Linked DNA regions of Homo sapiens: region 2 is linked to region 1. Evidence: fine-mapped expression QTL. Tissue or cell type: whole blood. Region 1 holds a variant in brackets; the other region holds the start of a gene. All regions are shown on one strand. Distances are from middle to middle.

The links. PIP is the estimated chance that this variant, and not a neighbour inherited with it, causes the effect.
Region 2: it holds the start of EIF3L, and the variant in region 1 is fine-mapped to the expression of EIF3L in whole blood (TOPMed, PIP above 0.99).

The regions. Positions count from the first base shown.
Region 1 is chr22:37,867,004-37,875,106 of GRCh38, reverse strand. It overlaps EIF3L (eukaryotic translation initiation factor 3 subunit L), which reads right to left. Exons shown (of 13, transcript NM_016091.4): 8 at 4,760-4,931; 9 at 583-737. Among named protein-coding and RNA genes, the nearest start is that of EIF3L, 22 kb to the right of the region's middle. The variant G/A (reference allele first, on the strand shown) is at 3,902.
Region 2 is chr22:37,845,218-37,853,320 of GRCh38, reverse strand. It overlaps EIF3L (eukaryotic translation initiation factor 3 subunit L), which reads right to left and starts at 3,902. Exons shown (of 13, transcript NM_016091.4): 1 at 3,839-3,902; 2 at 3,258-3,306; 3 at 1,831-2,041. The coding sequence starts at 3,871. It overlaps MIR659 (microRNA 659), which reads left to right and starts at 5,547; the gene lies at 5,547-5,643. It also overlaps a transcript of ANKRD54 not described here. RefSeq lists a silencer at 725-1,019 and enhancers at 3,216-3,737, 3,738-4,260, 4,261-4,783.

The sequences.
Region 1 (8,103 bases):
GTGAGCCACTGCGTCTGGCCTTCTCAATCCTTTAGCAAAATGTGAAGAGCAAAGAGCTGCCATGGGCCAGGCATGGTGGCTCACGCCTGTAATCCCAGCATTTTGGGAGGCCGAGGTAGGCGGATCACGAGGTCAGGAGATCGAGACCATCTTGGCCAACACGGTGAAACCCCAACTCTACTAAAATACAAAAAAAAAAAAAAAAAAAAAATTAGCTGGGCATGGTGGCGCATGCCTGTAGTCCCAGCTACTCAGGAGGCTGAGGCAGGGGAATCGCTTGAACCCAGGAGACGGAGGTTGCAATGAGCTGAGATCACACCACTGCACTCCAGCCTGGTGACAGAGCAAGCTGCCATCATCATTCCATTTTGAAAACAAAATAAAAAACTGTTGTTAACTACCAAAATCGTCCAGGTCTAGCTTTTTACCACAGCTGTTTGCCCAGTTTTAGTCTCAACTTTCAATGGCCTGAGGGAACAGTCCTCTTTCCTCTCCTGGAAATTTGTCCTAAGAGATCAGAGTGGTTCTCTAGAAATAGATATTCTGGCTCTGGCAAGAGGGGCCAGAGGCAATAGGCATCACCTTCTTGTTCAGTTCGATGTTCTCCAGCACCTTGATGGCCTGGTAGTAATCTCCTAACAGGGAGTGCAGGCGGAGAAGCCCGACCAGGCTGAAGTAACCAAGCATTTTGTAGAGGGAGTGCCGCCCATACTCCCCAGCCACACTCTCAGGGTCACCTGAAAGAGACAGACACCGTGAATACTGATAGGAGGCAGGTAAAGGCAGGCACACCTGACCTCTGAATGTTACTCAGTAGGCATCTCACCTACTGCCAGCCTTGAAAGCTTCCCTCAACAACTGGGGAATAACTTCAAAGGAATACCAAGAAACAGCAAAACCAATCTTATGCTAATCTTCGATTTACCAATATTTGCTTACAGGATGGCAGTTCATTTTGCTTATTTTTTTTTTGGTCCCAACACATGCAAAGGCCCCTCTCATCAGTAAAATACAACCACGAAGACTCCTCCTTTCAGAAAGCACATGAGGTCAAAGCTATTTTCCTAATAACAACACTAAGATGTTACTTGCCCTTCCCACTGAGTTGAATTTTGCATGATGCAAACACTATGTTGGGTAAAATTACTGTCAACTTAAGCATAAATCAGGCAACGACACAAAATTGTACCAGTAGTCACTGCATTGCTTCTTGCCATGCATTTGCACTAAAAGAACTAGTCCTTAGCCAGGCTTGGTGGCTTAGACCTCTAATCCCAGCAACTTGAGAGGCCGAGATGGGAGGATGTGCTTGAGCCCAGGTACCATATCTGAATAACCAGAGATTGTTGTATCAGTTGTTTTTTGTTTGTTTGTTTGTTTTTTGAGACTGAGATCTATGGAAGTGCTACTGCATTTTGGCCTGGGTAACAGAGAGACCCTGTTCTAAAAAAAAGACAAAAAAAAGAAAGAAAATTCTTTTTTCATTTTTACTTGAAAAAAACAACTGATACATAGGTCGGGAGCGGTGGCTCACGCCTGTAATCCCAGCACTTTGGGAGGCTGAGGTGGGCAGATCACGAGGTCAGGAGATCGAGACCATCCTGGCTAGGTGAAACCCCGTCTCTACTAAAAATACAAAAAATTAGCCGGGCATGGTGGTGGGCGCCTGTAGCCCAGCTACTTGGGAGGCTGAGGCAGGAGAATGGCATGAACCCGGGAGGCGGAGCTTGCAGTGAGCCCAGATTGCGCCACTGCACTCCAGCCTGGGCAACAGAGCGAGACTCCACCTCAAAAAAAAAAAAACAAAAAAAACTGATACGCAACTGAGCGCAGCTCATGCCTGTAATCCTAGCATTTTGGGAGGCCGAGGCGGACGTATCACTTGAGGTCAGGAGTTTGAGCCCAGCCTGCCCAACATGGTGAAGCCCCGTCTCTACTAAAAATACAAAAATTAGATGGGTGTGGTGGTGCACACCTGCAGTCCCAGCTATTGGGGAGGCTGAGGCAGGAGAATTGCTTGAACTTGGGAGGCGGAGGTTGCAGTGAGCAGAGATTGTGCCACTGCACTCAAGCCTGGGCTACAGAGCAAGACTCTGTCTCAAAAAAAATAAAAATAAAAAAAGAAGGAAAAAAGGGCAGACATTTTCACAAAAATGAAGTAAACCTGTCATACCTCAAAGAAAATAACTGACAGTGTTTGCTACCTATAAAACAGTTCAAAGGTTGGGCACAGTGGCTCACACATGAAATCCCATGAGTTCAAGATTGGCCTGGGCAACAAAGTGAGACCTTGTTTCTACCAAAAAAAAAAGAAAAAAAAATCAGCCAGGTATGGTGGTGCAAACCTGCGTTCCTAGCTACTTGGGAGGCTGAGGTAGGAGGATCACTTGAGCCCAGCAGGTAGAGGATGCAGTGAGCCATGATTGTGCCACCGCACTTCAGCCAGGGTGACAGAGTGAGACCCCATCTCAAAATAAATAAAAATTCAAGCTATTAAGCAAAAATGGAATTTTGTAAAACTTGTATCTGCCACTACAAGCTCTATAGCTTACAAATAAATGCTTACCTGATGTCAGTGGCAAAAGTAACAAATCTGACTTTTTAAAAAAATGTAATAAAATGTGTCAACATTTGGAAGATCTTTATAACTCAGAGAACCAATATTTTTTTAGAAATCACACATGGCCAGGCGCAGTGGCTCATGCATGTAACCCCAGCACTTTGGGAGGCCGAGGCAGGCAGATCACTTGAGCTCGGGAGTTCAAGAGCAGCCTGGCCAACATGGTCAAACTCTGTTCTACTAAAAATACAAAAATCAGCCCGGCGTGGTGGCGTGTGCCTGTAATCCTTCCTTTCTATATCCCTGGAGGCTGAGACAGGAGAATCGCTTGAACCCCGGAGGCAGAGGATGCAGTGAACTGAGATCATGACATTGCACTCTGCCTGAGCAACAGAGCAGATTCTGTCTCAGGAAAAAAAAAAAAGTCACACATGGATGTAAGGAACTCATTCAAATTACAGAAGTGACGAATAACGTTAACAAAAGAAAAATTCACCAATACAGTTTCAGATTCCTCACTGCACCTAATCTGTATGAAACTACCACTGGTTACTTCAAAGAAGTACAGGGTGAGTATACTTCTATAAATGCTTGTGATCAGAAGTGTTTTGGATTTTGCAATTTTTAATATCTGCATATGCCTAATGAGATATCTTTTTTTTTTTTTTTTTTTTCCCCGAGACAGAGTCTCGCTCTGTCACTAAGACTGTAGTGCAGTGGTGCGATCTCGGCTCACTGCAACCTCTGCCTCCCTGGTTCAAATGATTCTCCTGCCTCAGCCTCCCAAGTAGATGGGATTACAGGTGCCCACCACCAGGCCCGGCTAATTTTTTGTATTTTTAGTAGAGATGAGGTTTCACCATGTTGGCCAGGATGGTCTTGAACTCCTGACCTCAGGTGATCTGCCCGCCTCAGCCTCCCAAAATGCCAGGATAATAGGCGTGAGCCATGGCACCCGGCCCTAATGAGTATCTTAAGGATAGGATCCAAATCTAAACATAAAATTCATTTATTTTTCATATATGTCTTATACACACAGCCTGAAAGTAACTTTATTATAATCTTTTAAATACTTTTGTGCATGAGACGAAGTTCTGACTGCAACTGCTCATATGAGGTTGGGTGTAGAATTTTCTACTTACGGCGTCATGTTGGTGCTCAAAAAGTCAGATTTTGGAGCATTTCAGATTTCAAATTTTCAAGTCAGGAATATTCAACCCATACATACTACTACATGGTGTAGTATCAAAGAAAATCCTCTCCAATAATCCTGGCACTTTTGGGAGGCCAAGGCAGGACTGCTTGAGCCCAGGAGTCCAAGACCAGACTGGGTGACACAGC[G/A]ACACCCTGTCTCAAAAACAAACAACAAAAAAACTTCCTATAACCGTGTGAAGCCAGATTTTCCTTCTTTTTTTTTTTCAGACAAGTTCTCGCTCTGTGGCCCAGGCTAGAGTACAGTGGTGTGATCTCAGTTCACTGCAATCTTTGCTTCCTGGGCTCAAGCAATCCTCCCACCTCAGCCTCCCGAGTAGCTGGGACTACAGGGGCACCCCACCCACCATGCTCAGTCAATTTAAACATTTTTTTTGAGACAAAGTCTCACTATATTGCCCAGGCTGGTCTCAAACTCCTGGACTCAAGCGATCCTTCTGCCTAAGCCTCCCAAAGTGCTGGGATTACAGGTGTGAGCCACAGTGCCTGGGCCAGATTTTCTTTATGTGCTTCAAACAAAAGAACACATTGCAACAGATTGAATGCAGAAGCAGAAATGAGAAGCCAGCTATCTCAGCCAGACAGAGAGATCTGCAAAAATGCCACTCTTCACTGAAAAAAAAAGAAAAAAATTTTTTAAAATAGATACATTTTGTGGTTCTCAATATTTTAACAGGGTAAAGTGGCTCTGACACCAACACGTGTGAGAAGTGCTTATCTAAACAAAAGCACTGGAGACACAGAAGTGTTTACAAACGCAAATCTCAATGTGCTGGTTCAGTCTGTTGGCCAATGGACTCCCAAGCCCCAGAGCCCCCAGCACAAATACTCTGCTACTGTTTGTACTCAAGCACCTACAAAGAGTCAACAGACCACCACCTAAGACATGGTGACTCATCTGCTCTCCTTGCAGTGATCTATTCATTTGGAACAGATGGCAAGCAGCTGGAAATTCGCAGGCCACGGCTGTCGGCCTGCTGCACTCACCTCCGCTTGTGTATACCTCCAACTGTCGGTTGATGTTGGATTTGTCTACCAGGGAATGAAGGACATTGAGGACACTATGAACATTCCAGATTTTGGGATTGGAACGAAGAAAGTCAATCTCCTCCTCTGACTTCTTGGCAGTCTTACAGCGGTACTGACTGAATGACTGAAACTGTTGAGGAAGAAAAGAAACATGCAGTAGTGGTATAAGCCCAAAGTGATCATCCATGTCCACAATGCTGAAAACGAGGCAATGCTCTGGCTCTGGATGGGGCAAGGTGAGGGTGAGATGACCACTTCTCATTCTAAACCATTCCGTACACTGTTTTTCAAAGCCATCTTGACTAAACTGTGAATTCTGTTCATTACTGAATGTTACTTACTACACAGTGAAGTAAAAATCTCTAGGATTAGAGGTAGTCTGTGGTAAAAACATCCAATCTGGAGTCAAACACAACCCAAAGTCACTTCCTGTCTCTGGGCCTCACAATGCAGTTGACCGGGCCACCAGAAACACCACAGGGGCTCTTGTACCATCTATTCAGATGCAGCTAGACTGTGGTACGCCCTGGGTTATGGGCAGTGATGTGGTAATAGGTATCTGCACGTGTGAGCCTTCCCTACCACAGCTGACCATCAGTTCCCAGACTATGTCACCTCTCTACCACTCTCAACCAGAGTCGTCTGGCCAAGCACAACGAACACAGAGAAGATATGCCACAGGAATCTGTTTGGGACAGAAGTAGAACCTGGAAGCACTCCTGGCCTGGCTCCAGCAGTCACACAGATGGAACACAACAGACCTACCTACTCAATTTTTTAAAGTTCTCTGGTTGAATCTGGTGTGCATCAGGTTTGGAAATCACAGACCTAAAACCTAGGTCTTAGAAGATCTAAGACTGTTCTTCAACTCTTCCAGCAGAGATCAGAGGCTCACCCCTGTAAACCCAGCACTTTGGGAAACTGAGGTGGGCAGATCACTTGGGTCCAGGAGCTCAAGACCAGCCTGGGAAACATGGCAAAACCCTATCGCTATAAAAAACACAAACGAATTAGCCAGGAATGGTGGCAGGCACCTGCAGTCTCCGCTACTAAGGAGGCTGAGGTACGGGCTTTGCCTGAGCCCAGGAGGCGGAGGCTACAGTGAGGTGAGGTTGTGCCACTGCATTCCAGTGTGAGTGACAGAGTAAAACTCTGTCTCAAAACACAAAAAATTATCTTCTTCTAGACTGTGGGACAAAATGCTAATTTTGTAATATAAAAACAAAGAATATGCCAGGCACGGTGGCTCACGCCTATAATCCCAGCACTTTGGGAAGCCAAGGTGGATGGATCATGAGATCAAGAGTTCGAGAACAGCTTGGCCAACATGGTGAAACCCCATCTCTACTAAAAATACAAAAACAGGCCGGGTGCGGTGGCTCATGCCTGTAATCCCAGCACTTTGGGAGGCCGATGCAGGCGGATTACCTGAGGTCGGGAGTTTGACACCAGCCTGACCAACATGGAGAAACCCCATCTGTACAAAAAATGCAAAACTAGCCAGGTACAGTGATACATGCCTGTAATCCCAGCTACTCGGGAGGCTGAGGCAGGTGAATCGCTTGAACCTGGGAGGCAGAGGTTGCGGTGAGCCAAGATCGCACCATTGCACTCCAGCCTGGGCAACAAGAGCAAAACTCCGTCTCAAAAAAAAAAAAAAAAAAAAAAAAAGCACCAAAACAAAAATAGCCAGGTGTGGTGGCACATGCCTGTAATCCCAGCTACTCGGGAGGCTGAGGCAGGAGAATCCCTTGAACCTGGGAGGCAGAGGTTGCAGTGAGCTGAGATCACGCCACTGCACTCCAGCCTAGGTGACAGAGCAAGACTCCGCCTTAGGGGGGAAAAAAAAAGAATATCCAGAATATATAAAGAATTCTCAGGCTGGGTGCGGTGGCGCTTACACCTGTTATCCAAGCACTTTGGGAGGCCGAGATGGGTGGATCCCTTGAGGTCAGGAGTTCAAAACCAGCCTGGCCAACATGGTGAAACCCCGTCTCTACTAAAAATGCAAAAAAAAAAAAAAAATTAGCAGGGCGTGGTGGTGCACACCTGTAATCCAGATACTTGGGAAGCTGAGGCAGGAAAATCGCTTGAACACAGGAGGTGGAGACTGCAGTGAGCAGAGATCATGCCACTGCACTCCAGCCTGGGCGAAAGAGCGAGACTCTGTCTCAAAAAAAAAAAAAAAAAAAAAATCCTACAAAGAATTCTCGTAATGCAATTAAAAAAGCAATCAAATAGAAAACAGGCAAAGAATAGTGATGATCACTTCAAAGAAAACAAAATTGACAATTAATATGGGAAATCAGAAAAGTATGATTTTTTTTTCTTTTTCTTTTTTTTTTTTTTTTGAGATGGAGTCTCGCTCTGTCTCCGAGGCTGGAGTGCAGTGGTGCAATCTCGGCTCTCTGCAAGCTCCGCCTCCTGGGTTCACGCCATTCTCCTGCCTCAGCCTCCTGAGTAGCTGGGACTACAGGCGCCCACCACCATGCCTGGCAAATTTTTTTGTATTTTTAGTAGAGACGGGGTTTCACCGTGTTAGCCAGGATGGTCTCAATCTCTTGACCTCATGATCCGCCTGCCTCGGCCTCCCAAAGTGCTGGGATTACAGGTGTGAACCACCGCGCTGATTTTTTTTTTTTTTTTTTTGAGACGGAATCTCACTCTACTGCCCAGGGTGGAGTGCGGTGGTGTGATCTCAGCTCACTGCAACCTCTGCCTCTCGGTTCAAGTGATTCTCATCCCTCAGCTGCTGAGTAGCTGGGATTACAGACATGCACCACCAAGTCTGGGTAATTTTTGTATTTTTAGTAGAGACGGGGTTTCACCATGTTGGCCAGGCTGGTCTCGAACTCCTGGCCTCAAGTGATCTGCCCGCCTTGGCCTCCCAGAGTGCTAAGATTACAGGCGTGAGCCACTGCGCCCGGCCAGAATTTCTTTCCCATTGAACTGACAAAAATTAGACAGACTGATAATATCCAGTACAGAAAACAGTTGGTCTTGGCTAGGCATGGTGGCTCACGCCTGTAATCCCAGCACTTTTGGAGGCTGAGCAGGGAGAATTGCTTTATCCCAGGATTTCAAGACCCCATCTCTGCAACAAATTAAAAATCAGCTGGGTGCACCTGTAGTCCGAGCTACTCAGGAGGCTAAGGTGGGGGGATTGCTTGAGCCCAGGAGGTCAAGGCTGCAATGAGCTATGATCACACCACTGCACTCCAGCCTGGACCATAAAGGCAAGACCCCCATCTCTTAAACAAAGAAACAAAAAAACCAACAGTTGCTCTCAAACACCGCTGGTA
Region 2 (8,103 bases), 22 kb after region 1:
CCTGCTCTCAAACTTGCCTCCCTCTCTTCTTCTGCCTTGTGCCCCTCAGTCGAATTCTTTCTTGTTAGGAGTCAAGAACTGAGGATGCTGTCGACCCGTACAGATACAGACTCATCATCAGTAGCATTTTAGCCCTCAGTGTAATTCTTTCTTGTGAGGAGGCAAGAACTGAGGCTGCTGTAGACCTGTACAGATACGGACTCATCATCGGTAGCATTTTACCCCTCAGTCGAATTCTTTCTTTTGAGGAGGCAAGAACTGAGGCTGCTGGAGACCTGTACAGATACGGATTCATCATTGGTAGCATGTTTTGGTGTTGTGTCACTTCAACACCCTTCAGCTGCTAACCTCTTTTGGTGCCGCATGACTTGGATCCATTTGCTAGTGGTGAAAGACCTCGATGCTGCACCTTCTTCGGCTGGAGGTGTTCAACCTCCGAACAAGGTTTTCTCCCTTTCTCTCTCCTCACTAACTAACCCCCAGATCAATTCTTCTTGGTCATAAGTGACTCTGTTCCCATTGGCTGATCTCTCAGCTCAACCTAATGGGTGGCTTGCAGGGGCGGGAAGGACCTTGGAGTCCACACCAAGTAGAACTTAGGCTCACGAGAGTGGCAGGGGTGAGGCCTAAAACCATGCAATGTCTGAGGTTTCCTCTGCTTTTCAACTACAATCAGCTCTTTCAAAACAACAAAAAAAGAAAACACATGTCAGAGATCCTATTCATTGATCAATAGGCCTTTGGCTATTTGTTTTCTCTCCCTCATCCTTCTGACTTGCTTAAATTCTATTTCCTTGGTGAAGTCACTCCTGACTATCCCAGCTTTGACTGACCTATCTTATCTCTAACGCTCATTACACAACGGCAGCCCCTCAAAACCTGCGGAGTTCAGCTTGCTCTGATATGTACTGAAGGGCTGCATAGCACAGTTTAGAAATTAGGCTTTGGTGCCAGACACTGCAGGTTCAAATCTCAGCACATCCATTAAACTAGCTACATGACTTATTTCTGTGCTGTTTCCTCATCTGTAAAATGAGAAAAACTGCTACTTCATGGGCTTACTGTGAAGGGTAAATGAGTAAAAACACAAACAACACACTGAACATTGATGGATCTATCCTGGTAATAAAAACAAATGCTAATCATTATTATTATAATTGTTAATAGTGATATTATTTTAGGCTTTGTATAAATTTCTGAGGATATAAAGTCCAACAGGCCGGGCATGGTGGCTCACGCTTGTAATCCTAGCACTCTGGGAGGCCAACGGGGGTACATCACTTGAGGTCAGAAGTTCAAGACCAGCCTGGCCAACATGATGAAACCCCGTCTCTACTAAAAATACAAAAATTAGGCCAGGCATGGTGGCTCCCACCTGTAATCCCAGTGCTTTGGGAGGCTGAGGCGGGTGGATCACTTGAGGTCAGGGGTTCAACACACGCCTGGCCAACATGGTGAAATTCTGTCTCTACTAAAAATACAAAAAAATTAACTAGGCATGGTGGCACATGCCTGTAGTCCCAGCTACTCGGGAAGCTGAGGCTGGAGAATCACTTGAACCCAGGAGGCGGAGGTTGCAGTGAGCCGAGATCTTGCCACTGCACTCCAGCCTGGGCGACAGAGTGACACTCCGTTTCAAAAAATAAACAAATGCATAAATAAAATAAAGTCTAACAAAATAAAATGTCCCTAGCCTCAAGGACTCACAAAGACCCCCACCCCCCAACCCCCCCGAAAGTACTGTTTACAGAGTGCTCACCTCATTTGTAGGAACTATATTACCAGGCCAGTCCCACCCAGAAAGAGGCCCTTTCAGCCAGTAGCCCATACCTGTTCTCATAGATGTCCTGGATCTCATACACCTTCTGGTCAATGACATCACTGGAGACACGACTGGCCTGTAGCTCATACACTTTCTGGTCAATCAAATCTGAGACAGTTTTGTGGAAATACTGGATGAAGTTTTTGATCACCTCAGGGATCACCTGATAGGTTTGCTGTTCATACTGACGTTCATAAGCAAGGTCCTGCTTTGGATCTCCTGGAGGTTGGATACAACAAATACAGAGTATGCTCAAACCCACATATATGATAGAACGAAATGGCAAGACCACCCCAGAAACTAAACTCAGGTCTGCGTAAAATTCCCTTTTGAATACTCAGAGATACAAACATCTCAAGTCACTCCCAATCTCGTTGTCCCTGTTTCTTCAAAAATATTACCATGACTTAAAGTTATTTTTCACTTATTATCTGTTTTGCACCCTTCTCCCAAGTCTAGGAAGTCAGGAATCTCGTCTGTCTTGTACTCAGACATACCCTCAGGGCCTAGAAAAGTGTGCGTTGGAGGGGAGAGAGGCAAGACTGTTGGAAAGTAAGTGGTAACAGGTACTTAATATTTCTTGAATGAATAACTGTCACCTTTTAAATATATGACTGTGCCAAGTTACTACTAATAAACCTCTCTGCTATATTTTCTATTCTTTAGGAGACATTAACATACAGAACTGCTGTAAGGATTAAACAAAATATTTCATACAAAGTACTTAGAACAATGGATAACACTGACTACTAAGTCAAGTCACTATAACGTTTCAGGAAACCTCAGACACCTCCTAAAAAGATTTCATTCGGGCTTGGTTTGAATTACTTAAATTTTTCACATCAAGATTTTCTTCCTTGGGGCAGGCGCGGTGGCTCACGCCTGTAATCCCAGCACTTTGGGAGGTTGGGGCGGGTGGATCACCTGAGGTCAGGAGTTCAAGACCAGCCTGGACAACACGGCGAAACCTCGTCTCTATTAAAAAAATTTAAAAATTAGCTGGGAATGGTGGTGGGCGCCTGTAATCCCAGCTACTCAGGAGGCTGAGACAAGAGAACTACTGCTTGAACGAGGGACGCGGAGGTTGCAGTGAGCCGAGATCGCACCACTGCACTCCAGCCTGGGGGACAGAGGGAAACTCCATCTCAAAAACAAAAACAAAAACAAAAACAAAAAAGCTTTTCTTATTTGGCTAATAGTTTACACAAGAAAACCATAGCCAGGTAAGTAATCCTTCTCTTCCAAGACTGAGGTGGACTATGATAAAAAGCCTGGTTTATTAGGCTTTATAAAACCCCTCGCACTGGCAGCTAATGACTGACTCCAAACCTGGACCATCAAAGAGCAATTTTTGATGCCTGTCAGAGCTGGTTCTAAGACATTCCAAAGGAACTGATCCCTACGAGTACTCAGCCAGCCTAACCCGTGGTCTCACCTGTGTGCATATCATAGTCGCTGGGATAAGCGTAGGGGTCATAAGCCGCCTAGAAGGAAAGAGACACAGTCAAGGACAGCCGCCAAGTCGTGAATTCAAAACGCTCATCCTAGAGTCTAGATGCCAAGCAGAGAGCTAAGGATACAGAGGCGAATAAGACACTGTGCCTGCCTTTGAGGAACTCACACGCCTTAGAGAAAAGGGACAGTAAACAGACAATGACAATACAACATTACGGGTGCAATGAGGTGGAGCAAAGGACAAGAGGCTGTGGGAATCAGCGAGATTTGACCAGACGGAGCCTAGACCAAAAAAACTCAGGTGCAGAAACACAGAAACGTCTAACAGGCCTTAGTCTCCGGTCTTAGAAAGGGGAAGGACAAGCCAATCGAACACGCGAAGTGGGCGGGCAGAGCCAGGGTTGTCTAGGGACCGGGAACTGTGGGAGCAGCCTGAGGGCCGGGCGGGAGGTCGGCCGGAGCTGGCCGCGACCCGGAAGCTGCCTCGCGCCGGGACCCACATCCAGTGGTCCCAGAGATCACCCCGTCGTGGAGCCCACCGCGCCCTTACGGCCACCTTACCTCAGACTCATAATCATCAGCGGGATAAGACATGGCTGCCTCGCTTGCGAGCACCGCCGGAAAGAGCGAAATGAGCGGCCCGCGCCTGCGTCCTGAGGCCGGAAGTTCAGCCCCACTCGGGCCTGCCGGGAAACCGGAAGCCTTTCCGAGGCCTCTGGCCATCTGAGACAGCCATATCCAGAAGGAAGAGGAGCCGCGTTCCGTGGCTCACACCTGTAACCCCACCAGTTTGGGAGGCCGAGGCGGGCGGATCACCTGAGGCTGAGGCCGGGGGTTTGAGACCAGCCTGACCAATATGGAGAAACCCCGTCTCTACTAAAAATACAAAATTAGCCGGGAGTGGTGGCGCATGCCTGTAATTCCAGCTACTCGGGAGGCTGAGGCAGGAGAGTCGCTTGAACCCGGGAGGCGGAGGTTGCGGTGAGCCGAGATCGCGCCATTGCACTCTAGCCTGGGCAACAAGAGGGAAAACTCCGTCTAAAAAGAATAAGAGGGTTACAAGTAGCCTGAATTTTCCTCTCTTCAAATAGGGACTTCTCAAAGAAGGTGAATCTATAATAGTGGTGTAGATTCAGATATAAGGACACGTATTTGGCGTAAAGGAGAGGCAAAGTTAGAGGAACCAGAAAGAATGCTACACAAAAGATGGCCGGCTTCTCGCGTGAAGGAAGATTCGGATACGGGGGCCTGATGGATTTAGTTGTAGGCGGTTTGCCTGCAGCGAGTAAATTATTCAAACGTTCGGACTTCACAAGACTAAACTTACTGGGGATAAAAATTGAGATTTGGCCGGGCGCGATGGCTCACGCCTGTAATCCCTACACTTTGGGAGGCCGAGGCGGGTGGATGATCTGAGATCAGGAGTTCGAGACCAGCCTGGCCGAAATGGCGAAACCCCGTCTCTATTAAAAATACAAAAATTAGCCGGGAGTGGTAGCGTCCGCCTGTAATCCCAGCTACTCAGGAGGCTGAAGCAGGAGAATCGGTGGAACCTGAGAGGCAGAGGCTGTAGTGAGCCGAGATCGCGCCACTGCACTCCAGCCTGGGCGACAGAGCAAGACTCCGTCTAAAAAAAAAAAGAAAAAAAAAAATTGAGATTTGGTCCCATGCAGTAAGAGGGAATGGAGAACAGGAGCCACCCAACTTTGGACATTAAAGTTGGAGCAGGCAAAGATGAGGCCAGCTGTGTCGCGAAGCCTGGGACATGGGCAGCTCTTGAGTACACCGGGTTCGAGGCCAGGGGAAACCCTCAAGGTAGAGATGGGGTTATAAAGCAAACCAATAAAAACCGGTGTATGAGTCAAGGAGAGGCCTTAGTTTAGCCATCTGCCCATACACAACACCTAGTGGAAATCCGAGTTCCAGTCCCTACTCCGCCACTGATTTGCTGTGTGACCAGGACTCTCTGGGTCCCTTTGTCACGCCGCCCTCCTTGCTTTTCCCACTGAGGCACGCTCCACCTCTGGGATTTTGCACTCACTGTTATCCAAGTCTAGAATCGAATGCAGTGGCACCCCCACTCCCATTCCCTTCCCCATCGGTATCTGCATGGCACCTTCAGGTGTCTGCTCTGATGCCATCCACTCAACATCCTATTGAGAATTGCAATGCCCAGCCCCAACTCCCTATGCTGCGTTCTTGTTTTGTGTTTCTTCCTTGTGCTGTCACCAGAGGTGACACAAATTTGGAAATAATGGAGCTTAAGCTTTACCGACCCTCGATTTGGTTCAGGACCTTCCCTGAACCAAGGAAGAGTCACAGTCTCTTCCTTGGTTCAGGGAGGGTCCCCAACAATGTCCTCATGGTCCTTTGCTTTTGTAAAATTTGTGAAATATTTTTATTGCTGAAACCACCTTTGCAAAAATTGTAACAGTGAGAAAATAATGACAGTGAAAGAGATCTGATCTAACCAACCCTCATCTTCCATTTAATCTTCAGACTGCCCTTAATCATTCCTGGCTCGAACCGAGCTAACTTTGGGAGACATTTAGTTTCTAGTTTAAATAATAACCCTTCTCCGAGGCCTGGCACAGTGGTTCACACCTGTAATCCCAGCACTTTGGGAGGCCAAGGCAGATGGATCACCTGAGGTCAGGAGTTCGAGACCAGCCTGGCCAACATAGTGAAACCCCGTCTCTACTAAAAATATAAAATTAGCCGGGCATGGTGGCATATGCCTGTAGTCCCAGCTACTCGGGAGGCTGAGGCAGGAGAATCACTTGAACCTAGGAGGCGGAGGTTGTGGTGAGCCAAGATTGCACCACTGCACTCCAGCCTGGGCAACAAGAGCAAAACTGCCTCAAAAAAAAAAAGAAAAAAGAAAAGAAATTGGCCGGGCGCGGTGGCTCACGCCTGTAATCCCAGCACTTTGGGAGGCCGAGGCGGGTGGATCATGAGGTCAGGAGATCGAGACCATCCCGGCTAAAATGGTGAAACCCCGTCTCTACTAAAAATACAAAAAATTAGCCGGGCGTAGTGGCGGGCGCCTGTAGTCCCAGCTACTTGGGAGGCTGAGGCAGGAGAATGGCGTGAACCCGGGAGGCGGAGCTTGCAGTGAGCCGAGATCCTGCCACTGCACTCCAGCCTGGGCGACAGAGCGAGACTCCGTCTCAAAAAAAAAAAAAAGAAAAGAAATTACCTGAAATCTTATAGTCCATATATGACAGGAATTTGATACAGGTTGCTCCAATTTGACAACAATTCTCAAAATGTTCATGACATTTGAGAAGGAGTTGTGAAGTCAGAAGATTTTCATGGGGCTGGATGTGGTGGCTCATGCCAGCACTTTGGGAGGCCAAGGTGGGAGGATCACTTGAGCTCAGGAGCTCAAGATCAGCCTGGGCAATATAGTGAGACCCCATCTTAAAAAAAAATTGGGGCCCAGGCACTGTGGCTCACTCCTGTAATCTCAGCATTTTGGGATGTGGAGGCAGGAGGATCCCTTGAGGCGAGGAGTTCAAGACCAGCCTGAACAAAAAAGTGAGACCATGTCTACAAAAAATCAAAAAAATAATTAGCCAGGCACGGTGGTACACATCTGTGGCCCCAGCTACTCAGGAGGCTGAGGTGGGAGGAAAGCTTGAGTGCAGTGAGCTGTGATCACACCACTGCACTCCAGCCTGAGTGACAGTGAGAGATCCTGTCTCAGCACTGTATCCATTATGGGGCAGACGAGGAGAGTACAAATAAACATAGCATTTTTTTCCATATAGTACAATGATAAACCTCACAATGGCGACTGCAAACACTGAAAATTCTGGAAGTGCTTTTCCAATTGTAAGAGAAAGATTACTTTTTTTTTTCTTTTTGAGATGGAGTCTTTCTCTGTCGCCCAGACTGGAGTGCAGTGGTGCGATCTCGGCTCACCGCAAGCTCTGCCTCCTGGGTTCACGCCATTCTCCTGCCTCAGCCTCCTGAGTAGCTGGGACTAAAGGTGCCCACCACCACACCAGGCTAATTTTTTTGTATTTTTAGTAGAGACGGGGTTTCACCATGTTAGCCAGAATGGTCTCAATCTCCTGACCTCGTGATCTGCCTGCCTCAGCCTCCCAAAATGCTGGGATTACAGGCGTGAGCCACAGCGCCAGGCCTTTTTTTTGTTTTTGTTTCTTTCTGAGATGGAGTCTCGCTCTGTCACCCAGGCTGGAGTGCCATGGTGCGATCTCAGCTCACCGCAACCTCTGCCTCCCAGGTTCAAGCTACTCTCCTGCCTCAGTGTCCTGAATAGCTGGGATTACAGGCGTGCGCCACCACACCCAGCTAATTTTTGTATTTTTAGTAGAAACGAGGTTTCATCATGTTGGCCAGGCTTGTCTTGAACTCCCGACCTTGTCATCTGCCCATTTTGGCCTCCCAAAGTGCTGGGATTACAGGCGTGACCCACCGTGCGGAAAGATTACATTTTAACTGGGTTGAGTGGGAGGGTTTATATATGGAAAGAACTTTTGCCAGGACACAAGACCTGGTCCGGTGAGAGCTGGGCAACTGTGAATGAGTCTCTTCCCTCTGCTTTTCAACTCCTCACCTATAAAATAGGGATGGTCCTTCTTGTCTACTTTATAGAAGTGCTTGTGGGGTACGGGATTGTGAGAAGTTTTATGAAAACGTGCACCCATGAAATGTTGCTTGAGGAACACTTATTTGTTTCCTGGTCTTCTCCCATTGGATTGTGAGCATCTCAGGGGCACCAAGTCTGATCCTGTGTCCAGGACCTAGCAGTTACCTGGCTCAGTGACTGGCTGTCGAACTAAACTATTGCTCTAATG